7 linked regions of the Homo sapiens genome follow. The protein of the gene in region 6 purifies or fractionates together with the protein of the main gene of each other region. This does not show direct contact. Each region holds a gene or a part of one and is shown on either strand. Other genes may lie near its edges.

What was found.
Region 1: the proteins of NMS (region 6) and LRP6 purify together in Homo sapiens (affinity purification with mass spectrometry; one large-scale study listed by BioGRID and IntAct). This does not show direct contact.
Region 2: the proteins of NMS (region 6) and CYS1 purify together in Homo sapiens (affinity purification with mass spectrometry; one large-scale study listed by BioGRID and IntAct). This does not show direct contact.
Region 3: the proteins of NMS (region 6) and CD109 purify together in Homo sapiens (affinity purification with mass spectrometry; one large-scale study listed by BioGRID and IntAct). This does not show direct contact.
Region 4: the proteins of NMS (region 6) and LRP1B purify together in Homo sapiens (affinity purification with mass spectrometry; one large-scale study listed by BioGRID and IntAct). This does not show direct contact.
Region 5: the proteins of NMS (region 6) and EDEM1 purify together in Homo sapiens (affinity purification with mass spectrometry; one large-scale study listed by BioGRID and IntAct). This does not show direct contact.
Region 7: the proteins of NMS (region 6) and TCTN1 purify together in Homo sapiens (affinity purification with mass spectrometry; one large-scale study listed by BioGRID and IntAct). This does not show direct contact.

What each region holds. Positions count from the first base shown.
Region 1 is NC_000012.12:12,182,257-12,187,044, forward strand, and holds part of LRP6 (low-density lipoprotein receptor-related protein 6 isoform b precursor), read right to left. Parts: coding exon 4,667-4,788; intron 1,856-4,666; coding exon 1,724-1,855; intron 1-1,723. UniProt on the Homo sapiens protein: Component of the Wnt-Fzd-LRP5-LRP6 complex that triggers beta-catenin signaling through inducing aggregation of receptor-ligand complexes into ribosome-sized signalosomes.
Region 2 is NC_000002.12:10,066,194-10,070,981, forward strand, and holds part of CYS1 (cystin-1), read right to left. Parts: intron 1-4,788.
Region 3 is NC_000006.12:73,804,203-73,807,702, reverse strand, and holds part of CD109 (CD109 antigen isoform 1 preproprotein), read right to left. Parts: intron 860-3,500; coding exon 631-859; intron 1-630. UniProt on the Homo sapiens protein: Modulates negatively TGFB1 signaling in keratinocytes.
Region 4 is NC_000002.12:140,352,832-140,357,619, forward strand, and holds part of LRP1B (low-density lipoprotein receptor-related protein 1B precursor), read right to left. Parts: intron 3,646-4,788; coding exon 3,511-3,645; intron 242-3,510; coding exon 122-241; intron 1-121. UniProt on the Homo sapiens protein: Potential cell surface proteins that bind and internalize ligands in the process of receptor-mediated endocytosis.
Region 5 is NC_000003.12:5,207,573-5,212,360, reverse strand, and holds part of EDEM1 (ER degradation-enhancing alpha-mannosidase-like protein 1), read right to left. Parts: intron 4,269-4,788; coding exon 4,098-4,268; intron 2,187-4,097; coding exon 2,113-2,186; intron 1,242-2,112; coding exon 1,145-1,241; intron 1-1,144. UniProt on the Homo sapiens protein: Extracts misfolded glycoproteins, but not glycoproteins undergoing productive folding, from the calnexin cycle.
Region 6 is NC_000002.12:100,469,203-100,473,920, reverse strand, and holds the start of NMS (neuromedin-S preproprotein), read right to left. Parts: upstream 3,440-4,718; 5' UTR 3,433-3,439; coding exon 3,357-3,432; intron 1,127-3,356; coding exon 1,071-1,126; intron 433-1,070; coding exon 382-432; intron 1-381. UniProt on the Homo sapiens protein: Implicated in the regulation of circadian rhythms through autocrine and/or paracrine actions.
Region 7 is NC_000012.12:110,644,621-110,648,309, reverse strand, and holds part of TCTN1 (tectonic-1 isoform 1 precursor), read right to left. Parts: intron 3,344-3,689; coding exon 3,181-3,343; coding exon of another isoform or gene 3,167-3,180; intron 1,115-3,166; coding exon 974-1,114; intron 562-973; coding exon 418-561; 3' UTR 417-417; intron 1-416. UniProt on the Homo sapiens protein: Component of the tectonic-like complex, a complex localized at the transition zone of primary cilia and acting as a barrier that prevents diffusion of transmembrane proteins between the cilia and plasma membranes.

The sequences.
Region 1 (4,788 bases), on a different chromosome or scaffold from region 6:
AAGTACTCAAGAAATATTAACTAATACTTAACAACAGTATTAAAAAATAAAGATTTTCAGATTTTTATTTCACTGAATTTTAAATTAGGTTTATTTATGAACTGTTTAAAGCCCAAGCCCCAAATACTTAACCACATAACCAAGAATGAAGATACTGAGCTCAATCTTTTTTTCATTTTAAATTGTTCAAGTAAACCACCAGCAAAAAATCGTCTAACTATAGGAAGCTAATAAAAGACAGTAAGCAAATTGACAACTGAAAGAATAAGAAAAGATTCCCAGCTAAATAAATGAGTCCAAAACAAAATACTGGCATATAAACTTCAAGAATCAATCTGCAATTACAAGTCAAAAAACTGAGAAGAGGAGTGAAGCCTCTCAATATCAGCCCTTTCACTCTAGAGCTAATTATAAATGAATTCCAACTTGAAGAAAATACAGCCCAAATGCCACTGCAGGAACCAAGTAGGAATAACTTTGTACAATTCACTGCCCCGGCTAACAACCAAAAGGAGCCAGCCTAGAACTTCACAAAGAAGTCATAGAGCTGTTAATTTGAGCAAGGTGATCAAAACAGAACAGTTAACTTAAGGCTACTACATGCCAAATGCACACATGAAATTCAAAACTGGTTAAATATGTACACTTGCACTGCTGTGAGGGAGCAGATAGACCATTATTGCTAAAATAAATCCTCTGTTTTAAAGTCAGGCTACATTTTTAAAGAAAAAAGCAACATTACAAAAACCTTTTGTTTTAAATTGAAACCAAATTGCTGTCTGCCATGGAAACCATTTGACCAAGAGTCAGCCAGCTTCACCTTTTACTATGAGGATAATTTATCAATGCCAAGTCATAACAAACATCCTGTACACAGACTCAATTCCATCTCTCTGACTCCCTGGCCCCCTTGCCAGGGACTCTAACACACTCCAAAACACAGGCTTCTGCTTTTCAGAGTTAGATAAAGAAGCCACAGCTAAATACAACAATTTTCTTACCAGGTCTTGCTGGTTGCTAGAGAACCAGATGGTGATCCATAGGGGTGAGAATGAAGAATAACATTCTCATTAAGAAGAAAAACAGAAGAACTGGTGTTCTTCCAAACTGGAAGTCCCTTAAAATGTCCTAAATCAGTATACTTTCTCCAACGTGCCCTCTCTCTATAGGGAATTAAGAGTAAGGAGAACAGGCAAAGTGTGTTTCTTAAGTATAAAAAGAAGTTGTTTTAAATATGGATTTTTTTTCCCAGCTCTGAAAGCATCTCTCTGTTGTTAAAAAGCAATTTAAAACATCCTTAAATAATTTGTTATAAAATATATCTCATGATATTCTTTGTAGCTAAAAGTTTAATAAACATACTTTCTTTCACAGAGGTTCTTTATTCACAAATGCTACCTGTTAAAAATATATTCCTTATGCGACTACTCATTTCCATAGTTATCAACTGTGATATCAATGACTATGAGATTTGACAGAAAAGATACAACACGTAACTTTTTTCAAAAATATGTTATTTAAAACACTAAAATAATTTATAAAATAGCATTCAAGTGATGCCACAGAACAAAACACTCCTATTCTATAACCATGTGTGAAGACTGTGAAATTAAGTGACTGGTCTCCCAAAGCAGTATAACCTAGAGAGCTGATTATAGAGAAAACAAATCATGAAGAATTCCAATAGTTATAAAATTTTTCATTTTGGATAATATCTTCTTACCATCTTTGCAGGTTTTTCCATTCTCCAGGAGTTTGACCCCAGTGGGGCAAGCACACTGATAAAAAGGCTTGACTGGAGACATCAAACACAAATGGGAACAACCCCCATTGTCAATTCCACATGGATTTGTGGCTGTCAAATATAAATCACATTGATTAATATCAATGATTACTAAGTACACAAAGGTTAACAACCATAACATGAACAACTGTGATAAGCCAAAATTATTACCAAATGTCATGCAGGTGCTTGACTATCAAACCATCTGCAAAGACAGGAATTAATCAGTGTGAATTTACTTAGTATTTTGTAACCAAAGAGGAATACACAAGAAGTAAAGCAGGAGATCCCTGCCCTAAAAGAGGTTACAATTTAGTCAGTTAAACAAAATTAACAAAAAGCAAAACTAAAAACAAACAAACAAACAAACAAAACCAATAAAACTAAGTGCTATTTTGCACATTATAGACAATAAGTACAGAGTCAAATGGGAAAAAAACCGCTGAGGTTTAAAGAATTGAAGAAGAGCTTTGTGGAGTATACAGCACGGGAGCCTTCAAGGATAGGAAGGATAGATAAGAGGACATTTCAAGTATGGTAAAGCTATCTGAATAAAACTTTGGGGGCTATAAACTGGGTAAGATATTAAGGTGAACAGTATAACTGGAGGTTAAGGTTTCTACTGACTAATAGGAACTAAAGCTGAATGAATACAAAGAATGGGAATAGATTAAAGTGAAGGACACTGAAAGCCAAGAAAAGTAATTATGTTGAAAAGTCATGCCTTGGGAAGATTAACATAGAAGGGATAAGCAGAAAAAAGGGGAAAATGAAAATCAGAGAAAACTAATTAGCAAACTTTGGAAATTATGGAAAGGGATATGTCCAAACAATACTCATAGAAAAAAATCAACATAAGATGGAGACCAATGGAACATGAAAGATAAAAGTAACCAACATGAAAGATAACTGCAAATTCTCAAATTAGTAAAACATAAAGGACCAACAATGCCATTTAAAAAGAAAAACAAGAGGCCAGGCACGGTGGCTCGTGACTATAATCCCAGCACTTTGGGAGGCCTAGGTGCGTGGATCACTTGAGCCCAGGAGTTTGAGACCAGCCTGGGTCACCAACATGGTGAGACCCTACCTCTATAAAAAATACTAAAATTAGCCAGGTGTGGTGGCATATGCCTGTAGTCCCAGCTACTAGGGAGGCTGAGGTGGAAAGATCACTTGAGCCTGGAAGTTCGAGGCTGCAGGGAGCCGTGATCACATAAACGCACAACAGAGCAAGACTCTATCTCAAAAAACAAACAAAAAACAGGGAAAATTCTCTTTTGAGGGCTATGAAGAATAAAAAAATTCATACAAGTGACTGAACATTTTCTTTTGTACAGAAGAGTAACACATACACTTAAAAACATTTTTATGGGCTCATGATCATCAGATTCCAACATAACACTTTCAATATTTGATTATCTCCCCCTAAATGGAGAGCTAATATAAAGCAACATATGTTGCAAAATCTCTTCATTTTTGGCTATGTAATAAAATCTGAAATACACTCAGACAGATGCCAGACATTTATTTACACAAAAGTGCCAAACCCTTAACATTCTCGTATTCCTTTTAAACCTAATTCCAGTCCTCTCTTACAAGTTCTCAGCAGTCATAGCCCGAGTCATTGTAAAGGCTGACCAAACACAGAACCAAAACTAAGGAAAACAAGGTGGGAGGGGTACACAGAAAAGTTTAAGTAGGTATTTTATTTAGCAAGCTGAGGTACTTAAATTCAAATATATTCTAGATTAACAGAGTTTTCATTTAAAAAGAAGAGGCGTTTTTGTGTGTGTGTGTGTTTTTTGTTTTTTTTTTTTTTGAGACATAATTTCTTTCTTGTTGCCCAGGCTGAAAGTGCAATGGCGTGATCTTGGCTCACTGCAACCTCTGCCTCCCGGGTTCAAGCGATTCTCCAGCCTCAGCCTCCCAAGTAGCTGGGATTATAAGCACACGCCACCACGCCTGGCTAATATTTTTGTTATTTTAGTAGAGACGGGGTTTCACCATGTTGGCCAGGCTGGTCTCAAACTCCTGACCTCAAGTGATCCACCTGCCTTGGCCTCCCAAAGTGTGGGATTACAGGCATGAGCCACCGCGCCTGGCCCAAGAGTTTGTTTTTTAAACACACTCACATCAACACATTCAACTACATACTGAAAGAAATAATATGAACAAAAAAACTCATTTGTGTATAAGCCTAGCATATAAGCTATCTCAATTTTTAAATTATCTCTCTCTTCTCCACCTCTAAAAGCGCTGACTCAAAAAGGCTGAGGTGGTCTGTAGTGACAGGCTACAAAATGGTCTAGGCTATTGCCTAACCTGAATTATACTTTTACATTTTCCCTTTTTTTTGAGCAAAGTCTCGCTCTGTTGCCCAGGCTGGAGTGCAGTGGCACAATCTCGGCTCACTGCAATCTCCACCTTCCGGGTTCAAGTGACACTCCTGCCTCAGCCTCCCAAGCGGCTGGGACTACAGGTGCACACTACCACACCCCATTAATTTTTGTATTTTTTAGTAGAGACAGGGTTTCACCAGGTTGGCCAGGCTGGTCTCAAACTCCTGACCTCATATGATCTGCCTGCTTCAGTCTCCCAAAGTGCTGGGATTTTAACTTTTTTTTTTTTTTTTTTGAGACACAGTCTTTCTCTGTCTCCCAGGCTGGAGTGCAGTGGCGCAATCTCAGCTCACTGCAACCTCGGCCTCCCGAGTTCAAGTGATTCTCTTGCCTCAGCCTCCCAAGTAGGATTTTAACTCTTTTTTATTCCCGCCAACTATCTTTGGATATGCCCTCCCTCCTCCTGATCCTCACTAAAGCCAGACATTAGAGTGCTACAAAGCTGTTCCAACTTGCAATTTAAAAATCAAGGATCACTTACCATTTGGCTGCCTCTGTTGGCTGAAGGCATGTATATCCATGGGAGAGAAGATGTCAGAATGGATTTCACGCAGACCCTCACCAGTATACTTGTTGCAAGCCAAAATGGAGTGTGTGCTCCAG
Region 2 (4,788 bases), about 90 Mb from region 6:
GGGCCAGACTTGCTGCCTCCCAGACGGCCACCCATGTGAGGGTTGTCTCTCACCCCCAGGGGTCATGTGACCCACTGCCACCTAGCACGAGGGCACCCCGTGTGTCACCTCCAGGGATCTTGGGACCCACCGCCACCTAGCACGAGGGCACCCCGTGTGTCACCTCCAGGGATCTTGGGACCCACTGCCACCTAGCACGAGGACACCCCGTATGTCACCTCCAGGAACCACGCGACCCCGACCCCACTCTAAACATTGCCCAGAACCCTCTCCCTCCCCCACTGAAGTGCTTTCTCTTCATAAGGCCAGGACGTGTCTACACAGCATGTGGCTGCCGTGGATTCTATGGTCCGACAGTCCACTTGTCTACCCGTGCAGTGCCAGAACCACCCTGTCTCATTCCTGGCATCAGGCAAGCCTGGCTGTCCGCTAAAGCATGTCTTCCCAGCTTCTTTCTTTTTCCAAGAGAGTCTTGGTGATTCTTGGCTATTGGCACTTCCACGTACAGGTGCTGCTCAGCTTACAATGGGGTTACGGCCCGAAGAAAACATTGCAAAGTGGAAAAATCCTATGTTGAATCATCAAAATCAGGGACCATCTATACATGTATTATAATCAGCTTGTCATATTTGGGGGAAAAAAACCTTGGGGATTTTTCTAGGGTTGTATTAAACTATAGATCATTTTAGGGGGACTTATAGCTTTACAATAATGAGTCTTCAAATTTATAAATAGGGAATATCTATTCATTTAGGACTCCTTTAGTGTCTTCTAAGAAGTTATCATTTTCCCTATAGAGATACCATGGATATCTCTTTTTATTTTATTTATTTATTTTTGAGACAGAGTTTTGCTCTTGTTGCCCAGGCTGGAGTGCAATGGTGCGATCTCAGCTCACTGCAACCTCTGCCTCCCGGATTCAAGTGATTCTCCTGCCTCAGCCTCCTGAGTAGCTGGGATTACAGGTGCCCGCCACCACACGCAGCTAATTTTTGTATTTTTAGTAGAGATGGAGTTTTCCCATGTTGGCCAGGCTGGTCTCGAACTCCTCACCTCTCAGGTGATCTGCCCACCTCAGCCTCCCAAAGTGCTGGGATTACAGGCGTGAGCCACTGTGCCCAGCCAGCAATGTTATCTTTTTAAAATAAAATTTTCTACTTGCTTGATGCTTCAGAAATGACTGAGATATATACATTTTAAAAAAATTCTTTTCTTTTTTTTTTTTTTTTTTTGAGACAGGGTCTTGCTGTGTTGCCCAGACTGGAGTGCAGTGGCCTGATCATAGTTCACTGCAGCCTCCACCTCCCAGGCTCAAGCAACCCTCCCATGTCAGCCTCTCGTGTAGCTGGGACTACAGGCTCGTGCCACCATGAAGAGCTAATTTTTCATTTTTTGTAGAGATGGGGTCTCACTGTGTTGCCCTGGCTGGTCTTAAACTCCTGGACTCAAACAATCCTCCCATCTCAGCTTCCCAAAGTGTAGGGATTACAGGTGTGAGCCACTGGGCCTGGTCAGAGATATATGAATTTATCTTGTGCTTAGCAGTCTTACTGAATTCTCTTATTAATTCCAGTAATTTATGGCTTCCTTTGGATTTTCTTATTTCCCATTCACATGATCTGGGAATAATGGCCATTTGATTTTTCCCTTTCTGGTCCTTATACATTTTTCCCCTAACCTTTCTGCACTGGCTGGGACCTCCAGTAGTACAGTAAAAGGAAGTGATGATGACAGTCATCTCTATCTTAATCCTTTATTGAAAGAAAAAGTTTCCATCACATCATGACTGAATATGATATTTGCTGTAGTTTCTTCTCCAGCTATCTTGTATCAGGTCCTTGTCTCTCTATGCTGTGTTCTGGGTCATTTCTATCTCCCTCTCTCCATCTCACTGATCCTCTCTTCATCTCTGTCTAATCTGTTAAACTTATACCATTGATATCTTTCATTTTGCTTATTATATTTTCCATTTCCAGATGTCCTATTTGGTTCTTTTTCACATCTTCTAGGTCACTTTCTATAGTCCTTGTCCTTTGCAGGTGTTTTCTTTAAACATAATAAACGTAGCTGATTATAGTCTGTGTCTGGTGATCCTAGTAACTAAGATCTTCATTGGTATATTTTTGTTTCTTGTTTCTTCTAAGTCTTCACTTGGTTCTTTGGGGAGTTGATTATTTTTTGTCATTGGCAGCTTGTCATCATTGAAAAATTCCCTCTGGGTATTCTTTGAGGCCTAAGAGGCCTTCCTCCAGAGAGGGGATGCATTTGCTTTTGTCAGGCACATAGCAGGCATCCCTGGTCTGAAACCACTTCAAATTAAATCTATACTTTCAAGTATTTTGGACCACCAGGTGATGAGAATTTAGGCTGCAAACATAAGAGGTGCCTGGGTTGAGCTTACAACTTCCTAGAGCTTGCAAGATCTTTCTGTTCAAAGGAAAAAACTTTTGGGTAAATAGGTGTACACGATTACAAAGAAACCCACTCCAACTGCATGTGCTAGTCAACCAGTTTTTGGTTCATAAATATAAATGGTCATAAAACGACTCACAAACATTTAAAGGGGGAGGGCACATGAAAGAATAATCAAGATGAACCAGCTAGGCGTGGTGGCTACCAACACTTTGGGAGGCCGAGGCGGGTGGATCGCCTGAGGTCAGGAGTTCCAGACCAGCCTGGCCAATGTGGTGAAACCCCATCTCTACTAAAAACACAAAAACTAGCAGGGTGTGGTGGCGGGCACCTCTAATCCCAGCTACTGGGGAGGCTGAGGCAGGAGAATTGCTTGAACCCAGGAAGCAGAGGTTGCAGTGAGCTGAGACTGCACCACTGCACTCCAGCCTGGGTGACAGAGCGAGGCTCTGTCTCAGAAAAAAAAAAAATTAAATTTTAAAAAATAAATAAAAGTCTCCAGGAAGGGATGAGCAGGCGGAGACAGGCCACCTACAAAAAGCCAAGAGTCAGGTGGCCTCACCTGCTCATCAGTGACACTGGAATCCACTGTTATAATGGCTGCAAAGGTATAAGGGAAAGCTATTTTGAACTCAGAATTTTAATTCCAAATAAACTATTAATCAGGTATTAAGAAAATGAAGATATTTTCAGACATACAAAGACTTAGAGTTTATCTCCTATTACCCTTTCTGGAGGAAAAAAAATTAATTATTTTTATTTTGTTGTTGTTGTTGTTTTTTGCGACGGAATCTTGCTCTGTCACCAGGCTGGAGTGCAGTGGCACAATCTTGGCTGACTGCAACCTCAGCCTCCTGAGTTCAAGCGATTCTCCTGCCTCAGACTCCCGAGTAGCTGGGACCACAGGTGCGTGCCACCACGCCCAGCCAATTTTTGTATTTTTAGCAGAGACAGGGTTTCACCATGTTGGCCAGGATGGTCTCGATCTCTTGACCTCATGATCCACCTGCCTCAGCCTCCCAAGATGCTGGGATAACAGGTGTGAGCCACTGCGCCTGGCCGAAAAAAATATTTAAAAAAAATTTTTTTTTTAATCATAGAAGATAGAGGTTTCATGAGCCTAATGGAATGCAAGGCAGAGGAAACTTTGGATAATGTGTAATAAGGCCAGAAAGCAACCTGTCAGTGTCCAAAGTTCCCATGACATAAATTGAGCGATCAGAGTAGCTGCTCCAAATATCTGAAGAGCTCATGTGGAAACAGGCCACACTTCTTCTGCCTGTCCCAGGGGCTCAGTGTGTCCCCACTAAAGGGAGGTGGGTTGTGTTCAACACAGAGGACTAAGTCAGAGCTGCCTGTGAGGGAAAGGCTGCCCCAGGAGGCAGTGAGATGCCTGTCACTGAAGCCAGACAGAGGCTGGGTGATCCAACAGCTCATGCCCCCTTCTTAGAATTCAAAATCAAGGCCAAACACACACCCTGAAGTCACGCACTTCTATTTCTAGGGTCACTGTGAACGCTCAGCAGGTGAGGAGGGGGAGGGCAAGGGTAAGAAGGGATCGCGACAACAGCGTCTTCATGCTCCCGTCTCCTCACCTTCCGGGCCTTGGTGTACTTGGTTCAATGCCAAGGAGCTCCCCAGGGTTCTCCCAGCCTGGCCCAGTACCCTCTGATGGGTGTGGCTTTGCCTTGACCTCTATCGCTGCGGTCCCCGTGCTGAGATGGAGAACCTGTTTTATTTTTATTTTTCACTTTTTTTGAGATGGAGTCTTGCTCTGTCATCCAGGCTGGAGTGCAGTGGCGTGATCTCGGCTCACTGCAACCTCTGCCTCCAGGGTTCAAGTGATTCTCCTGTCTCAGCCTCCAGAGTAGCTGGGATTACAGATGTATGCCACCACACCTGGCTAATTTTTGTATTTTTAGTAGAGGTGGGGTTTTGCCATGTTGGCCAGGCTGGTCTTGAACTCCTGACCTCAAGTGATCCACTCGCTTCAGCCTCCCAAAGTGCTGGGATTACAGGTGTGAGCCACTGCGCCTGGCATATTTATTTATTTATTCGAGACAGGGTCTTGTTCTGTTGCCCAGGCTGGAGTGCGGTGGCCTGATCATAGCTCGCTGCAGCCTCAACTCCTGGGCTCAAGCAACGGTCCCATCTCAGCCTCCTGAGTAACTGAAACTACAGGCACATGCCACCACACAAGGCTAATTCTTGTACTTTTTGTAGAGACGAAGTCTCCCTATGTTGCCCAGGCTGGTCTTGTACTCCTGAGCTCAAGCGATCCCCCCACCTCGGCCTCCTAAAAAGTGCTGGGATTACAGGCATGGTGAGCCACCACGCCCAGCCTGAGAACCCTTTTTGTTTGTTTGTTTGTTTTGT
Region 3 (3,500 bases), on a different chromosome or scaffold from region 6:
GCCTACTAGTAGAATAGGAAAATAGTGGGGGTCCTAATAAAGAGAATGACTTTGGTGATCTCATAAAATGCAGCAGGCAGTAAGCAGTAAAGGCATCAATCACCAGGACAGCTCTGGAGCAAACTTAAGCTCGTCAGCATACCTTTCCACGCATACTCATTCTCATCCAGGCATCCATGCCCATTCAACACACTTTTCAGGGTATGGGTGTTCTCAGCACTAAATTAACAGATATTGTAACTGTTCCATGATGTTTTATAAGTAAAAAATCCTTTGCAATCTAAACTTGCTAGAACACATTGTCAAATTTTAAATAATTTTCTTTCCCCTCAGAAATTAACTTTTTCAATGATAAAACATGTATTGACTTATCTTACCAATAGCAAGTACAATACATACATTAAAAAGCATTTTTAGAATTCTCTTAGTTATTCTGAAAGAGTGGGTTAATGTTTTATTCTCAGATTTTGGAACATGGCCACAAATGCAAAGCAAAAGAGTACTCAAATTCAGATTTCACATGTGTTGTAAAGCTGCAACTTGTTAAGTTTCCACACACATATTTGACCCATTAAGACCTACCTTCCTTGAATTTCCCATCTATCATTTATTAAATTAAATACGAAATACCTGATACTTTCTATATCCCAGGAGAGAAGTTACAATATAGGCTGTAAGTGTTACTGGACTTTTATTGCCACCTTGAAGCTCACTATGAATCACTCTTCCTGGATCCCAAAATTCACCGTTGGATTTCTGATGTCCTTTAAGCCAAGTGTATGTTCTGTGTAACACATTCTGATCAATATCTATGTAAGGATCGGCTTCAAGGAAACATCTTAAAACAAAAGCTGACAACCTTTATGAAAAGAGAAAAAAATTACATAAAATACACTTTATAAGGTCCACCAAATAACACCGAGCAAGCAAAACAACAACACTTTTTCCCCCATCAGAAGATTCATCAAAGGGGGAATCACTGAAGATGGAACAAGGAAAGAAAAAAATCAAAAAAGAAAGAGCAAAGGGACAAGGTAAGCAACTCTCTCTAGCAGGCAGAACTGGTTTCCACTTGGGCTTGGCCAAGAAATTCCATGTTGACTCAAAAATCTCAGATTTGAAAAGGAATTTAGAAATGATCTAATCCAGCTCCATTTTTTAATTTAATTTTATTTTATTTTATTTTTATTTATTATACTTTAAGTTCTAGGGTACATGTGCACAACGTGCAGGTTTGTTACATATGTGTACATGTGCCATGTTGGTGTGCTGCACCCATTAACGCGTCATTTACATTAGGTATGTCTCCTAATGCTATCCCTCCCCCATCCCCCCACCCCACAACAGGTCCCGGTGTGTAATGTTCCCCTTCCTGTGTCCAAGTGTTCTCATTGTTCAATTTCCACCTATGAGTGAGAACATGTGGTGTTTGGTTTTTTGTCCTTGCGATAGTTTGCTGAGAATGATGGTTTCCAGCTTCATCCATGTCCCTACAAAGGACATGAACTCATCCTTTTTTATGGCTGCATAGTATTCCATGGTGTATATGTGCCACATTTTCTTAATCCAGTCTATCATTGATGGACATTTGGGCTGGTTCCAAGTCTTTGCTATTGTGAATAGTGCCGCAATAAACATACGTGTGCATGTGTCTTTATAGCAGCATGATTTATAATCCTTTGGGTATATACCCAGTAATGGGATGGCTGGGTGTGGGGAAAAGAAAGAGAGATCAGATTGTTGCTGTGTCTGTGTAGAAAGAAGTAGACATAGGAGACTCCATTTTGTTCTGTACTAAGAAAAATTCTTCTGCCTTGAGATGCTGTTAATCTGTAACCTTACCCCCAACCCCGTGCCCTCTGAAACATGTGCTGTGTCAACTCAGGGTTAAATGGATTAAGGGCTGTGTAAGATGTGCCTTGTTAAACAGATGCTTGAAGGCAGCATGCTCGTTAAGAGTCATCACCACTCCCTAATCTCAAGTACCCAGGGACACAAACACTGCGGAAGGCTGCAGGGACCTCTGCCTAGGAAAGCCAGGTATTGTCCAAGGTTTCTCCCCATGTGATAGTCTGAAATGTGGCCTCGTGGGAAGGGAAAGACCTGACCGTCCCCCAGCCCAACACCCGTAAAGGGTCTGTGCTGAGGAGGATTAGTATAAGCAGAAGGAACACCTCTTTGCAGTTGAGATAAGAGGAAGGCATCTGTCTCCTGCCCGTCCCTGGGCAATGGAATGTCTCGGTATAAAATCCGATTGTATGTTCCATCTACTGAGATAGGGGAAACCTGCCTTAGGGCTGGAGGTGGGACATGCGGGCAGCAATACTGCTCTTTAAGGCATTGAGATGTTTATGTGTATGCATATCTAAAGCACAGCACTTAATTCTTTAACCCTGAGTTGACACAGCACATGTTTCAGAGAGCTCAGGGTTGGGGGTAAGGTTACAGATTAACAGCATCTCAAGGCAGAAGAATTTTTCTTAGTACAGAACAAAATGGAGTCTCCTATGTCTACTTCTTTCTACACAGACACGGTAACAATCTGATCTCTCTTTCTTTTCCCCACAGCTGGGTCAAATGGTATTTCTAGTTCTAGATCCTTGAGGAATCACCACACTGTCTTCCACAATGGTTGAACTAGTTTATGGTCCCACCAACAGTGTAAAAGTATTCCTATCTCTCCACAACTTCTCCAGCACCTGTTGTTTCCTGCCTTTATAATGATCGCCATTCTAACTGGTGTGAGATGGTATCTCATTGTGGTTTTGATTTACATTTCTCTGATGGCCAGTGATGATGAGCATTTTTTAATGTGTCTGTTGAATCCAGCTCCATTATTTTGTAGACTGAGAATCTGACAGTCCAAGAGAGTTAAATAAATTGTCCAAGGTTATTCATCTTTGGACTGTTCTAGATATTTACCAAAGAAGAGCTCCAACACGCTTCAGTCAGCCCCAAAGCTGTGGGTGAAGAATGCATACATAGTTCACAAGCAAACTGTAGTACTTCAGGTGGGGAAAATGATATTTTTCTCTCCTATAGAATGGGAGTTAGCCAACTGCAGCCTGTGGGCCAAATCTGCCTGGCCCAAATCTGGCCCTCAAGCCAAATACAGCCCAGGGCCTGTTTATGTGTGCACCAACCCAGCCCCCACCTGCCAACACCACCACCTAAGAGCGGGTTTTAAAAGAAGGAAAAGAAAAAGACAAAGACAGGAAAGAAAGAGGGAGGAGAGGGAGGAAGAGGGAAGAGCATGCAACGGAGACTCTACGTGGCCCAAAATGCCTGAAATACTTACAATCTGACCCTTTACAGAAAAGTTTGCCAGTCCCTGCTACAAAACACTATACTGAGGTAAAAAGAACATCAAGCAATACAACACTGAAAGCTTTCTATTTATGGTTCTATATCCTGAGTCAGGCCAAGGCCAAGAGAAAATTTGAAGCAGATCTGTTTCATGTTATATAAAGTTTCATGTGGTAAACATTACTGATATTCAA
Region 4 (4,788 bases), about 40 Mb from region 6:
ATCATTAAAAGTATTTTATCAGAAATGAAGCTGTTGCTGGAATGAAATATAAAACATTTTTCTCCATAAAATGTTTACAACAAAATTGTAATAGGATTTGCAATAGTGGTTATAATCTTACCTTCTGCTATGCAGGTGTTATTTCTTTCTTGAAAATTCTGGTCACACACACATTTATATGATCCTTCCACATTTATACATTGATGGGAACATGTGCCAAACACCAAACATTCATTAAGGTCTAGAAAAGAAGAGCTCAAAATAGCATCATCATACCCTCAATTCAGACTCCTATTCTTACCACGTTTCAAAAAAGCCAAAATTATTTTTAACTTATTACTAGCTTTATTGTCCTTTCACATCTTTAATCTGTGACCTGCTGTGTCATATTTTTGAAGGTATAATCATTTTTCACAATATTTGTAGTAGAAGATTTATCAATTGTCATTGCTTTTATTAATCCACTTAAAATATTAAAGCTTCAATTTCAAACTTCCCTGGGGCTTTCTTTTTTCTTTCTTAAAATTTTTACTTATTTATTTTTTTACCTTTTAAGTTCATGGATACAAGTGCAGGTTTGCTACCTAGATAAACTTGTGCCATGGGGGTTTGTTGTATAGATTTCCATTCACGCAAATAGACCTGTCTTGAGGTTTTCTTTTAAGCTGTTTCTGATGACCTACCTCCATGCCTTCGAAGGTATCATGGGCTATTCTTTCATCCCGTAATGCCCTTGCCCACTTTTCCATACAGAATTTCTACTCATCTTTCAAGATCCACCTGAAATAAAGCCTTCCTTGGTCTCCAACCATATATGGGAGTGATGATTCATCCTTAGTTTCTCCAGTTTTTGCTCTCCTGGTGTTTCTCTCTTACACTGTTGCTTATATTTCAGGAATGTGGTTACATATTCATATTCCCTTGAGGACATAAATTATGATACATTCCTTTTTTATTGCCAGATTTTGCACAATGACTGGCAGAGAACAAAGATTTGGGCACATCTCTAACACACTTCTGGACTCATATATATGAAGTGACTACGTAACAAGAAGGGCTGTATTGAGGTTATGTGATGTGAATTAAGCAAGCAAAATCTGCATGCCTATATATGAATAAATACCTCTAAATCACTAGCATAAATAAATAAATCACAGGCAGTATTCATGTGATTTAATCAGAGTCATGTAGCTTGGCACATGACTCTAATTTTAAGGGCTTATGAAGAGCCAGGATTGAGGCCAGGTGATTCTAGGGAATTATCTAATTTTCCTCTCTTTTCCTCCTCTACTTTTGTGTTTAGCCAGCATATTTCCCCTGCCTCATTTTATCACTTATAATCTCCTAATTACCTAATAAATCTGTGAGATAAATCCTTCCCTTGAATTAGAGAACTTAAGAATCAGCACAGTAAGAATAACTATCTTTTGCGTAGCACACAAACAATGTTCTAAGGGCTCAGAGGTAGAGACACTTGTAAATCACAACGTCAAGGCTTAAACTCAGGTTTTCTGATTTTGTTGACTTTACTGTGATACTTTGCCTAAGAACACATAAGCATTTTCATGACCACACATTGCTATTTGATTGAAATGTAGAGTAAAGAGATGCAGAAAAGTGTATTTCGTTGTTTTTAATAAATATTTTACAGGAATGAAGTAGAATGCATCTTGTCAGTACTTAACCATCACGATTACAACAAATATTTCTGATTTGTTCAGCCCCTGTAACTTTGAACCGGCAGTTATTTGTCACTATGGTTTCCCTTTGGTACAGAATCCAAATAAGCAGTATTCTGCATGATTTCATACAACCTCAACTTCCTCACTTGTCATTATACTGGCCTGAACCATCATTTTCGCCTCATCTCTAGAAAGCCTGGATCATGAGCTTTTGAAGGGGATGGAGGAATTCCACACATGCCTAGTACCCAAAACAGTACCTGGCACTCAGCAACTGTTAATCCCCTTCTAATTTTCTTCCACCATTCCTCTTTACTTTTTTCCCTTTAGATATTCTAATTGAAGTGTTTGGGCTTTAACATCAAATAGCAATTTCTTATGCATTTTTTCAGATACATAAGTGAAGGGCACAAACAAATTTAAATTTTTGGATTATAGAATCCAATTATGTCTTACCCTTCTTTGACACTGAAATAGAACTATTTTCCTTAAAATCAAAACTTTATTTATTAAAAATAGATGAACATTTTATTAGAGTTCAGAAGTTACTCGTCTGTCCTACAAAATAATACAAAAAAGTGGATTCATAGCAATTTAAAATAAAGAATGTAGTGTGCAGGTTATATTTGCTGTGGAATGTAATTAAAAATTAAGAAAACTTTAATAATATAATTTCTAAATTTAGTACATATATACAGAAAAAACCCACTGACAAATATTAGAAAATAAATGTTATTGAAATTAAAATATTGAAAGAATTGTGTGTGTGTGTGTTTATATGTAATTGATAGAAAGAGCCTGGGAAAAATAAATACCATAGTTTGAAAGATAATTCATTTTTTAACTAAAACACAGAAAACCTAGGTTGTCATCTTTCAGTCTCATAGTAATGGAACAATCAAATGTCACGAATAATCCAAATACACATTTAACTCAAAATGTAGATAAACATGACGTGACTACACTTTTTCCCCTTTTGGGTGAGTAGAATCAATTCATTTAAATAATTCCATTTTGATTAACACGAAGTAGAATCATTTTTCTTAACCTCAAAATATCACAAAGAGACATAACAAAAGCAAGCTGGTAGGTAAAAGCACTTAAAGACTTGAATTTAGCCTGGATAAGCCAGACTTAGTTATTTTAGGTTTGGCTGTACTTACATTAATATGAATATGAATACAAATAGCAGTTTTATTGGAGAAACTTGCAGAAAGTGCATATGGGTCTGTATTTCATGGTTCTATAGTTAGAACACTGATGTAATTATATTTACTTACTTACTATAAGATTTTGGCTATCCTACATGCTCAATTTTTAAATGATCTCAAGTAAGTTGACAGATTTATGTAGATCCTGACTTTGAATTTTTAAAGATACATTATGATCTATTTAAAACATGGTTTTAGGACAAAAGCCCATGACTCTCTAAATGTGATTTACCTATTCCAGTATTGCAAATTCCACACTCAAGAGAAATGGGTCATCATAAACATATTTTTTCATGAAGCAAGACTAATTCTCCAATAGTTCCTGAACCAGGAATTTCGTTATTTGCATTTCAAAACAGTATTGTAGCAATAGAATTGAAATTCCTGCAGCTCTGAATTTGCTATAGAAAAAGCTTTGTAGCCTCTGTCGTGGTTAGCTTAGCTCCACAAACAAGCTCTTGACCCCAGAGACTTTCATTCTCATAAGTGAAATGGTATCCCGTAGATACACACCATTTTGATGAAAGTCAATCCCCTGTGATCTCACAATTTAGAAGTCTTGGGAATCTTCATAACCCAAAGATTTATGAGCAAACTGTTGAAGAAAAGTACTCTACCTTCACATTGTCTGTTTTTCATGTTTCTCTGAAATCCAGGCTTACAGCGACAGAAAACAGATGTTTTTATTTGATTACAATATGCATCATCTCCACATGGATTCACATTATCTTCACAGGTATATTCAGTAGGAGCTGGGATTTAAAAATATGATCAAAACTAATATAATTCTAATTCCTGAAGTGGGGAGTTAACTTTTAAAAAATGTTTGAAATGGTATTTATTATTCCACAGATAACTCTTTTTGAATGTACAAGGTTACGGTCTTCTCTCCATATAAGCCCCCATGTCTTATAAATGTATAGAAGTATAAAAACTAAACTCATTAACATTAAATACAGATTAGACCAAGCTGCTAACAGTTGATATTTAGAGCTGCTGTTAAGCTGTAACACTTTTTAAAAATAAGTCAGGAGTCAATGATTCTAATGACAGGCTATCTTTATTATAGTACGATATATGAGTACTACATCCTTCTCTGAGAGCCAAAGCATTTCCTATAAGCTACCTAGAAATTTAGGCATTTATTGCTAACCTAAGCTTAATATTTGTAAACTCAATCAAGGGTACTGCTAAGTTACTCAAGCAAGTTGTCTAAATCAGCAGTTTAAATTTCATTTTTTTATGCTGGACATACATATGAAGAGTAACATTTGAGTGTGTAATGTGCTCATAATGGTTGGTCATAAGCTGCAACATTTTAGGACAGACAAAAAGTTACTTGTAATTTCCAGGATAGCAGTTGCAATTTTATTACTTTATCTCCCATTCAGGAAAACATTTTAGAAGGCCTTCTCTTTTAAATAAATGAGAGGGACATTATTATAGAGACATCATATCATCTCTAAGTTACTTAAATCAAATTTTTGAGAAATGTGAGAACTTTAATTATTATCGTTGTAACCCCACTGACTTGAATATTTTGCAATTAGTTAAAATAGGTCAGTGGAATGATACCATGGTTTAGACACATGCAGCCATATCCTGGTGGGTATTGCTTCATCCCTAAATGAGGAAAGTTTTAGATGCATAAATTAAAAAAAAAAGATGTAAAAGTAGGAAATATTGTGTGACTTTTGTAAGCAAACTGAATTTAGGATCATACATTTAATTATTTTTCTTTAATATAAAAAATCAAATACCAAGCATTAGACACAAACTATTCGCAATCAGCAGGTAATAACTCAAGTATCATGGCACTGTAACTAAAAAAAAAAATCACATCTTCTGTAAGAATGACTCAGCAATGGATTAAATTTTTTTTAACATTGAAAAAA
Region 5 (4,788 bases), on a different chromosome or scaffold from region 6:
CAAGAACCACTGCACACACAGGAATCGACAGCAGGACAGCTGTCTTCCCACTGGACAGATCACATGGGCTGCTGGTGGACATACCTCTGCAGTCATCTGTGAAAAGACCCCAGACAGAGAAGAGTATCGTCTTAATGGATTAGACCAGCAGCTCCAAAACCTGGCTCATGTGAAACCACTGGAGGCACTTGTCAAAATGACAGATTTCTGAGCCCGCTTATTCTGAAGATTCTGACTTAATATGGCTGTCATCTTAGCAAGGGCCCCAGGGTGATTTGGACCCAGCTAGCCCCAGGCCTAGGAACCACGGAACTAGATAAACACAATTTATCACAGCTGCTTCTATCTCTGACCCTCTGCCCAAGTTCTCAGTTGCCATGCTATCTTCTAACCTGGAAATCCTGCCCTCTGTTTCTATGTGGCCATACTGAGGAAAGTGGCAGGGGGCACGAGAGTGGCTGTATGCACGAGGCAGAGCGGTGAGATGGAAAGAGCACCAGACAGGGAGTCAGGACCACAGTTCACACCTCAGCTCTGCCACAGCCATCGCCATACTTTGAGCAAGTCGCCTGACCTCTGTGTAGGCTGTAGTTCTTGTGAGGGAAATGATGAACATATGAACATTAGGTAATACCAAAGGGTTCGTCCAGGTCCAGAAATTCTCTCTCTCTACACACACACACACACACACACACACACACACACACTCACTCACTCATGTGCCTGAGGATGTGTGTATGGACAGAGACAAGGCTGAGCTGCAGGTCTTGGCTAAGATCACATACATCAAGAGAAGTGAGAAGCCATTATGAACACAGCTCTCTTCCTCAGAGGCGTCTTCCCCGACCACCTGTAGTTAGATACAGAACTAACACTGGTTCTGTATCAATCGTTACCAGGATTTCCCACAGTTTGTAATCATAAGTTCAGTTCTTGGTTTACTTGACAAATGACTTTTCAACAAGGTTGGAAACCATGAAAGAAGATAGTAATATCCTTTGGTTCTGACAGCGTTTGCATCCTGGGAATGCACAATGTCCAGCACATAGCTTTAGCCAGTAAGTACCTGTCAGATGGAAGACTATGCGAATGCTTGCTCTAAGCAATACTAAATATTCCTGGGTTCATCTTGCAACACACATACCAGATACAAATATTTACAGGTCTCACTGAGAAAGAAGCTCTCCATCCGGTCTTCTGTGGACTTGTCAATGACGTGATGCAGCGTGGCGTACCCACACCTACAAAACAATCATCTGGTCAGTCCTGCCTCTCTTCCTTCCCACCTGCTGATTCACTTAAGAAGCAGAAACATTCTCTTATCAGAATAATCAACCAGTCATCCAACACCATATGAAACTATGTTTACATTGAGGGGCTCTCCTTTTTTATAGCCTGGGTTGTTTGCAAATTTACTTAGCAAGTGCTTTTGGCTGCTAAATTATCAGGTGAGTTAGAGGGTGTGGGCGTGGTGGCGGGGTGCTGGCCAGAAGCATAACGTGGCACCAGGAAAATGACCGGCAACAAATGTAAAAGGACTAATTTAAATTTCTAGTCCTAATACTTGTAGAATTGACTTATTATTGAGAATTGACTTATTATTTGAGTATTGACTTATTATTTAAGATAGTACTTAAAAAAAAAAACTTACAGCAGGTAAAAAAAAGCATGTCACAAAATTGAAATATAGAGTATGTTTCTTATATATACATATATACACACATCATATATAAAAATATTTAAAAGATTATAAGTACATACATTTCAATACTGACTACAGTTTTCTCTGTATGTGGAGATTACAGTGATAATATTCTACTGCTTTATATTTTCTGTACTCCCTAAACATTTTAGCGTATATGTTATTATATAACTAGGGGAAAGAAGTTAGAATGAACACCCATAATCTGCTAGAACCTCACGGAAAAGAAAGGGCAGTTCTCAGTACAATGGAAAGGTTCTACTACACCAAAAGGTAAGCAATTTCCCTGTAAATGTAACATTAATGACCTGGTTCTATAAATTAAAATGCAAACTAGGATATTTCCCCAAAACAATTTGAAATAAATTAAAAGTGGCTGACAGAAAAAGGTAGGAACTTAGAAAACTGACTTGACTTTTGTGTACTTTTCCAGACTCTGCAGAATATCCATTCCTACATGGAGGTAGAAGGGATTCTTGGTTGCCTAGAGAGAACACGAGAGAATGTGATCCAGCATGGGCTTGGAAGACATGCCATCGACAAACATCATGGTGACTGCGGGGCTTCCCCATGGAGACGAGTCGCCAGCCAAAGGAAGAAACAGGGCCCAGGTCATTTATCTTGCAGGGTCACAATGGTTAGAGGACTAAGGTACTCCGTCAGTTCACATCAAAGAGTACCTGTGATTTGGTTAACTTTAGCCAGGGGTAAGACCATCTGTTCCAGGGTAGAACAATAGTCTACTTTGGTTGCCATCATGATTAGAAACAAAACAATGCCCACGCTGACAGCACCATATCTGAGAACAAATCCAATTTCTATCTTGCCTCAGAACTCTCCAGAAACTTAAGACACAGGCACAGGAAAGAGGACCTTGCCGCCATTCCAGTTATGGCACCATGAGGAAAGGCTGATGGGAACAAGACTTTCCGAAGTATGAAAGGAGGCCGCCACCCTTTCCTTTCTAATCACCCTGAGAAATCAGTCCTCAGTTGCCTACTCTTCTCACACATACTCTTAGATGGTTTTACTAGAGAAAAACTTCTCTGGGAAGATAAGCCTTTATCCAACAAACAGTTTAAAAGTTGGGGATCTTTAATTCATGCCTAGTGCCAGATTGCAGCAACAAACAACAAGGTTAGCAGTCTCCAGATTAAAAGTGCACAGGGTGTGGCTTCGGAGGGTAAAGCTGAAGAGTGCAAGACATCTCTGTCAACGTGAAGGAGAAACGGAAAACATGAAAGAAGCAGTGACAGAAACAAAGAGGAGTAAGCTCACAGGCCACAGGACTAAGCTTAAGAGAAGAAATCAGCCAGTAACCGGCACGCCATCCTCCGTGTACAGTCTTTCTACTGGGCTCAGAAAGGCCAAACAGGTGGCTATTATCTTTTCCCTTTTTTGAGAGGTTACCTAAAACTCATGAAGTCCCTTTTTAGGCATGAGGACTACTACCAGTTTCACAGGATTTCTTTCCCCTTTTTTCATCTGAAGCAAACGGCAAGGATTTGGTATAAAAAAATTGTTGAATAAATAAATTCAAATCTTAGTGTTAGCTCCACTACCAGAGTTTCTAAAACTCCCCACTACCAGAGTTTCTAAAACTCAGGCCCTGCTTGCTAGGGCTGGCCCACGGTGGGCATCTGTTACCGGCCTACTGAATTTCACCAAGGCCAGTTTCTTGGTGAGTTAACCACTCGTGCTGCTGTGCATGTGGATGGAGGAGGACTCTCAGTGTGTATATATGTATGGCATACACAGAAGTATAAATACCTGGCTTCAACCGTCAGGAAGAAGACATTTCACAGTTAAAGTCACATTCCCTCTACCACTGAAGTAATTTCACAAAGGATGAACACTATTACATATATATGTGTGTGTGTGTGTGTGTATATATATATACACACACACACACACAAACACAAACATTAAACAAAAACAGGCATCCAGATGAATCCAAGATGATTTCCTTTACAACCAAGAAAATGAATTTTCTTTTTGTCTGAATAGTTGTTACACAGACCGGGGCTCCACAGTACACTGATGCAGAATTGCATCCTAAAAACGGGTCTTCTGGTCACATACATTTGGAAAACACCTTAGTACCAAATCTTCCTCATGAATACTTAAAGATGTGAGTTATAAGTCCTACGGTAAAAACATGATTCAGCTTTGTAGAATATTAGGTTAAAAACATATTTGACTGCAGATGCCTTCTCTGTCCTGTGAAGTTACGAATGACACTGAACACTAACAAGACTACGGATAGGGGGTAACTCAATCAGAGTCACTATGAAACAACATAACCCTAAATCACTCAGCAAATGTTCATTAAGAATGAACTGCTGGGGTCAGGGGAGGCAGTGAAAGGAAAAAAAAAAAAACACAACTCTAGTACCTGGTAGAGGAGATATGTGGATTCCACTAACTCTGGTCTCAGTGGGTAGAAGAGAACGTCAGGGGCCTGCAGCTGCCAGTTATATCTCTCAGGGAGGGCACCATATCGTTTCCATATGGCATAGTAGAAGGCATGAAGGCAGATGGCATCTTCCACATCTCCTATCAGCACCTAAGGAGAGGACACAGGTCATCAGGCTGAGATACCATTCCTAGAGTGACAAGACATGGCACAAAGGGCCTGCCTGGGCTCTCCTCTGCCCCCGAGTTCTTAGTTGACCTACACATACGGTTAAAGACAAAACCAACCCAAAAGTGACAACCCAGACAAATAAATGCCCTCCCTATCTGGCCACTAATGCCAAATTGATGTGAGCTGCACACAGAAAAAGAGATTACGTGTACTCATGAACAAGGAATAAACAACTGAGCGATGGATTATCCAAAAATCTCACACAGCCCAGCACAGTGCCTCATGCCAGTAATCCCAGCACTTTGAGAGGCTGAGGCGGGCAGATCACCTAAGGCCTGGAGTTCGAGACCAGCCTGGACAACACAGTGAAACCCCGTCTCTACTAAAAGTACAAAAAATTAGCCGGATGTGGTGGCAGGCGCCTGTAATCCCAGCTACCCTGGAGGCTGAGGCAGGAGAATCTCTTGAACCCAGGAGGCGGAGGTTGCAGTGAGCCAAG
Region 6 (4,718 bases):
CAGGTGTGAGCCACCAGGCCCAACTAGTTACTGTAAAGTCTTTTAAATGATAACTATTGTTTTGGAGAACTGCTATATCATGGTATATCAATTTGTAATATGCAATATATCATAACATATAATTAGCTTAACTATACATGATTATAATAATTGTAAGAATATACATGAACTACCCATATTTTATAGTAATTTATATTGAAGATACTTAAGATATTTAACATATTTATATTTAAGATATTTGCTTGATTTTTTCTAAAATTATATTCTTGAACACACATAAGCATGCACATACATACAGCATTCTCCTGTAGGTAGCAAAAGAGTGTGTTTGTTGCATATATATATATTTTATATATATTATATATATACACATTTTTTTACCTTAGGTTGGCGAGAAAGAGGTGCCCACTGACTCAGACAATATGCCAGCTGCTAAAAAATAAAATGAAGAAAACAAATCAAAGGGATGAGGGGGATGAAGAGAGAGATTGATTAATGGGTAATCAAATACAATTAGATAGAAGAAACAAGGCCTGGTGTTTGATAATTCAGTAGAGTGACTATAGTATAAACCATAATCTATGGGATATCTCAAAATAGCTAATAGAGAATAATTCAAATGCTCCCAGCATAAAGAAAATGTAACTATTTAAGGTAAATGTTTAATATCCATCGATATTCCATTTCCCCCAACTTGGTTGTAACACACTATATGAAAGTATCAGAATATCACATGTACCCTGAAAGTATGTACATCTATTATGCATTTAAAATTTAGACAACGAATCAAAGATAAGCTTAAATTCTTCAGTCAGCAGAATTTTATTACAACAGATTTAAAATTCTAAAATTGTCCTATTTCTGAACCTCACATTATTTTCTCACACAGTGGTAGTGAATTTCAACACAACCCTCAGGATGCCTTAAATGAGGCCATGAAAAATGGCAACAGTGAGTTTCTGCTGCAGCCAAAAATCTGATCTCAAAATAGTTTTAAGTGAACATTATACACATGATGTATTCAAGGTCCAGACTAAACAAAAATCTCACATTACTGAATAATTGGGTACCTCAAGCTGCACAATATCCAAGCCATCTGAAGGATCAGCTAAAGGTTGAGGAAATCCTATTGTGAGAAATCATAAAATTATTAATTAGAGAAAAGAGGTCATAGCATTTACTTCAAAGTCTTTATCATGAAAAACAGACATTCTGTTAAAATAATAAACCACCAAAGAACCATTCAAAAGAGGTCAGTGGGAAAGTAAGATCTGATCTGATGTTGTTAAAAGGATTTACAAAGAAAATACACTTCTACTTGCCACTAGCAAATCTGAGATTTATACAAAGATTAATTTAAAATAGCATGGTTGTTAATTTACCATGAGTGTTCAGTACAACTATTAGCAAGTCAGCAAAGAGGAGGAAAAAAATCCAAGGTAACAACTTAGTTTGTATTTTGATAGAATTCATGAGGATGGCATCTCAGAAAATGGTGTCAACAAAGGATGGACATCAGAATCACCTTTGAACTTTGAAGACACATGGATACCCGTCTCTCTGCTGCTACAGACTCTCTAGGGATGGGCTCTGGGGAAGGCTGCTGGCATGCAGCTGGACCCTGTCAACCTTTTGTCTAACTTCAATGAACTCCTCTTCTCACTTGCCTGTGATACAACACTTGGTGGGATAGCTATAGTGCAGTCGAAAGAATCAATTGGATAGGTCAAAACTAACAAGATGAAATTAGATGGATAAATATAAAACCTGGCACTTAGATTTTTAATGTGTGGAACAGGGAATGTATGGCTCAAGAGCAGTTTATGTTTAAAAACAAGACAAAAGAAAATTGTATGGTATTTTGTTCCCTGCGTTCTCTCTGAGCCAAGATAAAGCAAAGGCAATGTTATGTTATATTCAAATAACAGTGCCTAAACCTTAAAAGATAATAGCCTGACTTGAAATGATAAGATATGAGGTAAAGGCACTGAGCATAGTTTTCTCTGGAAACAGGAAAATTAGGAAGTATATGTTAACTGCTTTCAACTATTTTGAGAACTTCAATAAGTAAGAGATATTAGTCTTATCCTGTGTTTCCCCCAAATAACAGAATAAAGACTGACGGTTAGAAAGTTACATGTGATCACACTTAAGCTTAGCCTAAAGAAGTTTTTGGTGATTGGAATCATTCAATAATGCAAAGTAATGCAAACCAATCCTATAAGGATTTATGGAGAGGTTCTTTGCTAATAAAACGTAAAGACTTACCCTCAGGGAACATAAAGTCAAACAGGAAAAAATAGGGAGGTGAGTATAAACATATAGAAAGATACATAAAAGGTAATAACATATTTACAAAAATGTAATATAAACAGGACTCTACTGGAGCAAAGAGGCAGAACCTGGCTGTCATAGCTGGCAGTGAGTTGGGGTCATTGAAGTAGTTAAATAGAATCGGGAAGCTACAGAAGGGATCCCTGCACCCTGTGAGAGGTTAAACCAGATGACCTTCATGGTCCTTTGCAAGGCCCAGTTTTGTGATTACATTGTAGGACATGACAAACAAACATATTGTTTGAAATATGTTTTCTCTGTCAATATATTACCAAAGATTTTCTACTCCCCTAAGTCAAAATTCTAATGGAAAAATGTAAAATGGTATGTGTTTCCAACCGTAGTTGTTCTGCCACCGCCCACTTCCCTGCATCCTATGAAGATGGTGGTAACAGATTCCAACCACAGACCCTCACTCCACCCCTGTTCCCTAGAAGCTAGTTCTCAGAGTCGGTGAGGCGATGCCCGCACCCGGTCAGCACCTCGGACAGCTCACTGGCCCCGGGAGGTAGCGGCTTCCGGTACACTCTGGAACCCTGCTTCTCTAAAACCCAATGGAAAGGCTTGGGAAAGATTCCTTTTTCCAGTGTGCGCTCCTCCCGCGCCCTTCTCGAACTGCCCATCAATTTCCACTCTCTGGGGCTGTAAGCTCAGTTTTACCAACTCTGTCCTCGTCTCTTCAGAATCCAGGGAGCAGAAATGGCTACAAGTGGGATCTTCCCCTAACTCACACCAGGAAGTGCCTTTCCCTTCAGTTTTAGCGACACATGTTCAGGACATCCCTAGGGCAGGAGCAGCTTAAAGACAGTCCCACAGGGAAAAGTCTCCTTTAGTAAAAGGCTGCAGCATCTCGCTCTCTTGATCCTCTCCTAAAGGTTCCAACAAATTGCAGCCAGAAATCAAGAAGGTCTGGCGGGGGAGAATAAAGCTTGACTCCCTCCAGAGCTGCCCTGGGGGATCAAGGTCTGTCTCAGACATCCTCAGAGTTTAGGCCAGATGGAGTCTGAGGAAGCTCCCCTTACCTGAGGAGGGAATCTGTAGCATGCAGAAGCAGTAGATGGCCAAGATGAGAGGGAACTGGGGACGAAGATGTTTCATTGTGAGAGTCTGGTTTCTCCTTGCTGGCCACAGACAGGTGCTGCTAGGACAGGAGCCGCGCATTTCCCCAAGGTCCACAGGCAGAGGCAACCCTCTGTCCTGCATCTGATCAGCCCAGCGAAGAAAGTGCCTTTATTTGCAGCGCCCCGGAACCCACTGGCTGATCACCAATCAGCTTTGCACAGGAGGACCCCGGCTTTCTCATAAATGTCATGCTGAGCCCTTATTTGTAGAATAATATCTTTCTGGAGTAGGCATTGTAGAGAGCCATGTTTTACAACCCAGCAATGAAAATAAAAGGTGGAGAGTCCTGATTGTTATTCTATAATGATCTGAGAAATATTTCTGAATCAAGAATGGCTTTTTCTCTTTTTAATAAAAGAGATAAAATAAAAAAAGGACACAAATCTCTAAATTATTGCTTGATAAAGTCTTGTTTCCTACGAAGCTGTTTATTTTCCACCTCTAACAAAGGATGTTGTGTTATCTTGGTGCATTTAAGAAGGACAAAATTTGGAGTCTTCTGTATAATATTTGTAAAAATCTAAAGTTCAATTGGGGCTCTGTTTGTTTTTTAGATCATGGCTGGAAATTAGCCTCTTTAAGGTCTTTCCAGATTCATTTTAAGGAACAAGTTAAATATTTCAAATTGTCAGTATTCAGGAAAACATGACAATGTTTAATAATAATAAATAACTTCATCTACTGAGCTTCTACATGTTGGGATCTGTTTTAGGCATTTCACATAGGTTATTTCATGTAATTCTCACAGAAAATCTATTAGGAATGTGTTATTACCCTAATTTTATGAATGAGGAAACAGAGGCTAGGAAAGATGAAGAAACTTGTCCAAGGTCATCCAGCTATCAAGGATCAGAGAAGAAATTTGGACTCAAAGGTACCTGAGCCCAGTCATTTCTGTAAGAATATGGAATTTTAATTGATAAGTAATTTTTTAAACATGCTTCCTTGGGATTAGACATCAGATAGAAAGAAGAAGAAAGACTGAAGTCTTCTATTTCTTGCAAAAAGGGCAACATACATAGTATACGTGAAACAAATATCTTTTGTTTTTTTCATTATGCATATCTTTATTTTTTTTTTCTTTTTGAGACAGAGTCTCACTCTGTCACTCAGACTAGATTGCAGTGGCGCGATCTTGGCTCACTGCAACCTCTGCCTCCTGAGTTCAAGCGATTCTCCTGCCTCAGCCTCCTGAGTAGCGGGGATTACAGGCGCCCACCACCACGCCCAGCTAATTTTTGTATTTTTAGTAGAGACCAGTT
Region 7 (3,689 bases), on a different chromosome or scaffold from region 6:
CTGGTTTGGAGGCAACCTCAAAGGTTAGAAGTATAATAAGGCTAGGCATGGTGGCTCACACCTGTAATCCCAGCACTTTCAGAGGCCGAGGCAGGAGGAGCACCTGAGCCCAGGAGTTTGAGACCAGCCTGGTCAACACAGCAAGACCCCATCTCTACAAACTATATTAAAATTAGCCAGGTGTTGTGGTGTGCACCTGTAGTCCCAGCTATTAGGAGGCTGAGGTGGGTGGATTGCTTGAGCCCAGGAGGTCAAGGCTGCAGTGAGCCATGATCACACCACTGCACTCCAGCCTGGGCAACAAAGCGAGACCCTCAAAAAGTATAAAATGCAGTATCCCCTAGGGACTTCTAGCCCCACGTGCACACTTTCCAAAGGGGATGACCTCAGAGGAGGGGCGTAGTTTCCTCACTTACGTCAAACAAACGGGAAGAAGAAGTTAAAGGGCAGCCTGGCATTGATGGCTGGTGGAGCTCTGAAGCCTGCCTCTGCAGGTGCAGACACATCCACAAAAGTAACCGCAGTGGAAATAAGAATCGTCCTTTCATTTCCTGAGTTGGCCTGTAATAAACAGAGAGATGCAAGGCCCACCCTCCAGTGTGCTCCCAGAATGACAACAATGAGACACTTTTCATTCTCTTCCTCACCCAACTACTGTCAGTTCATGAATCTGATAGGTCCTGGAGCACTAATTGGCCATTAACTTGGATGAGAGAAACAATTTTACCAGGGTGTCTGATTAACACGTGAATATCATAATTTTCATGAGAATTTTAAAGATCCAATCTGAACCAGAATGCTAATGTAAGTAGAACCATCGTCAGTGTTTCTAAGAATGACTGCTGAAATATTTTATGAACCCCCATGGTTTAAATTATAATCTTTTTCACAAAGTAATACCTGTCACCTACCACACTTGAGTTGTGTCTAGACTTCTGTCTTAACCTATGCCTTTAAACTAGGTTAGGCCTACCTCAGGAAAGGAGGATGAAATTAGATTTGCAGTTACATTGACTATTTTGGCCTGTGGATTCAGCAGGGATCCGTATTTAGTCCACTTCACTTCTATAACCAAAGCCCCTGGGAGCTGGCAGGAATCCTGCAAAACAAAATGCTGTTAATCCATTAGAATCTTACAAAACTGCAAGTCAGACTTAATCTGCAGTTCAGAGTTTTAATTATAAAAGGTTTCACATATTACAAAATGTTCTGAACAAGAAAATGAATAGACTCTACAAGTTCAGATAAAAACAGCTTAGAGAATATACGTGTTTTAAAGTAACTCAATGCCCCAAAAATATTTTTAACAGCTGAAGCGTAATTTTTCCATCTCCTCCTATTTCTAAAAATGCCGACATCACCTGAAACTGCGGTAGTGCCAATACCCAACTGTGGACCATTTAGGGCCATAACTGCTCTAACTTCATCTACCTGTTTATAGCGGCCTCACAGACTTCAGGAAAGAAACTGGTGGGAGGGATGGAGGGGGAGAAATAATTATTAGCAGACAAAACCTGATTGCATGTCATGTTAAAATGCTCTAAGGGGAAATTTAAGTGCTTTCTTTTCATTTACCTAATTTCATCAATTGGCAATTAAGATGTGACATCTAGGTAATCCAGGCAGTGTCCGTATGTTGTCAAAGACATCAACTCTTCAACTGCATCAGGAACACTGCTGGTGCCACGAAGGAGCTGAGCTGCCCCTTTGGTTGGCTGCTTTGGCAGCCAGCTCTAAGGCCTCTGACCCAAGGGAAAAAGGGGCCGTGGGCTTTCCAGGGCTTTTTCCTGCCTTGGCAGTCTCTCCGGTTGGCAAATGTGGTAACTGTTGAAGCTGCAGGCTGGGTACGTGGGGACTCCATGGTACTATTCTACTTTTGTGTGTGTCTGACATTTTTTCATTAAAAAAAAAAAGCTTTAAAATACATCTCTTCAGGATATGAAAACCTCACAGGCCTGCTAAATTTGGTGGCTGCGAAAAAAGCACTGATGGAATTCCTTAGCTTGGAACCGCCTTTAAAAACCATGCAGACTGAACAATCCTCTCGAATACCCTGTTCTTAGGAGACAATGCAGCATGCAGCTGGTGGAAACTGAGTTTAGCAGGTGCTCGTGCCTGCCTCTACCTGGGTTGCCGGCAGAGTTGGTACAAAACCTGCTGCTGCAGGCCCTCTGAGCACCCAGGATCAGCACAGACCCTGACGGTGCCATGTGCGCACTGCTGCCTCTCCTCCCAACCCATGTCTTCCCTTCTGAGGAGGAGTAATAACTGCACATCTTCACCCATGGCCAAGAAGCCAGAAGCGATGTGCCTGGTTCTGGTGGGAGAGTTGAGTCAAGACTTCGCAGTGGAACGGCAGGGACTGAGTAATCCCGGGTCTCTGCTGGCCTCGGTGGGAGGGCGGATCAGAGAAGTGAGCAGTCCTCACCCCCGTTATGCCCATGCTAGAAATATTCGGAGCGGATAATGAGAGGTCTGAAGAAAGCGTGACAAGAACAAGCTGGGCAATTACAGGCTAAGATGGAGAGCACGCCCCTGGGCCAGGGCCGGCCCACACGCTGACTGCTAAGACAAAAGAAAAAGGTGGGCAGAAGCATCATGTGTGACCGGGAACCTATCTGTAGGATTGTCAACTTCCATTCAACTCTGTGAGGAACTGTGGCAGTGAAAACTCTCAGGTGTGGGCTGCCTGTGTAGAACAGGGGACAATGGGTGGGAGAGCCACATGCACGGAAGTCAGTCTCAGTCTTTGATACAGGACTCAACATTCGTCTATCGTGTCATGAGATGCCTGGAGAGGGCTCGGGGGACACCAGCAATCACAATGATGGTAGCAACAGGATGAGGATCACAGAGGTTCCCATTTATGGACCACTAGGCACCATGCCCAGGGCCACATAAATGTTACCTCACTTAACCCTCTCAATGCCCCATGAGGCCATTCACTCACTATTGACTAGCGTTCCCATTTCACAGATGAAAACAGAGGCTCAAAGCCATAAAACTGCTGGCCAGAGGCAACATTGCTAACAAGGGGCAAAAATCAGTATCCAAGATTCAGCCCGCGCTCCCACTCAGGGCCATCCTGCCTCCTTAACAGCTGGCTTCCCCGGCTGCCTTCATCACACCACCTGGAAGACAGAGACCACTAGCATGGAACCTGTACCTTCTCCCCTTTACCTTCCTGTTGAATGACTGGGTGATGAAGTGGATGGGCACCCAGTCCAGCATGTCCTGGGCCTGGGAATTTCCAAAAGGGGCCACGTAATCTGGGAAGCCCTGGCCCCACAGCAGGCTCTTCACCTTCTGTGCTACGAGCTGACACGGGAGAGCTCCAGTCAGTCTTGGTGAAGGAAAAAGAAGTCAACTGAATGAGGCTGTTGTTCATCCACCAGCAGTTTTTCATTTTCTTCTTCCTTTCCTTCCCTTTGTTTATTTATTTTTGAGATAAGGTCTCACTCTGATGCCCAAGCTGGAGTGCAGTGGCACCATCATAGCTCCCTGCAGCCTCAAACTCCTGGGCTCATGCAATCCTCCCAGAGTGCTGGGACTACAGGAGTGAGCCACCACACCCAGCCCACCAGCAGTTTTTTGTTTTTTAAGTTTTGATTTTTGGTTTTTTTGTTTTGTTTTGAGATGGAGTTTGCTCTGTTGCCCAGGCTGGAGTACAGTGAGGCAATCTTGGCTCA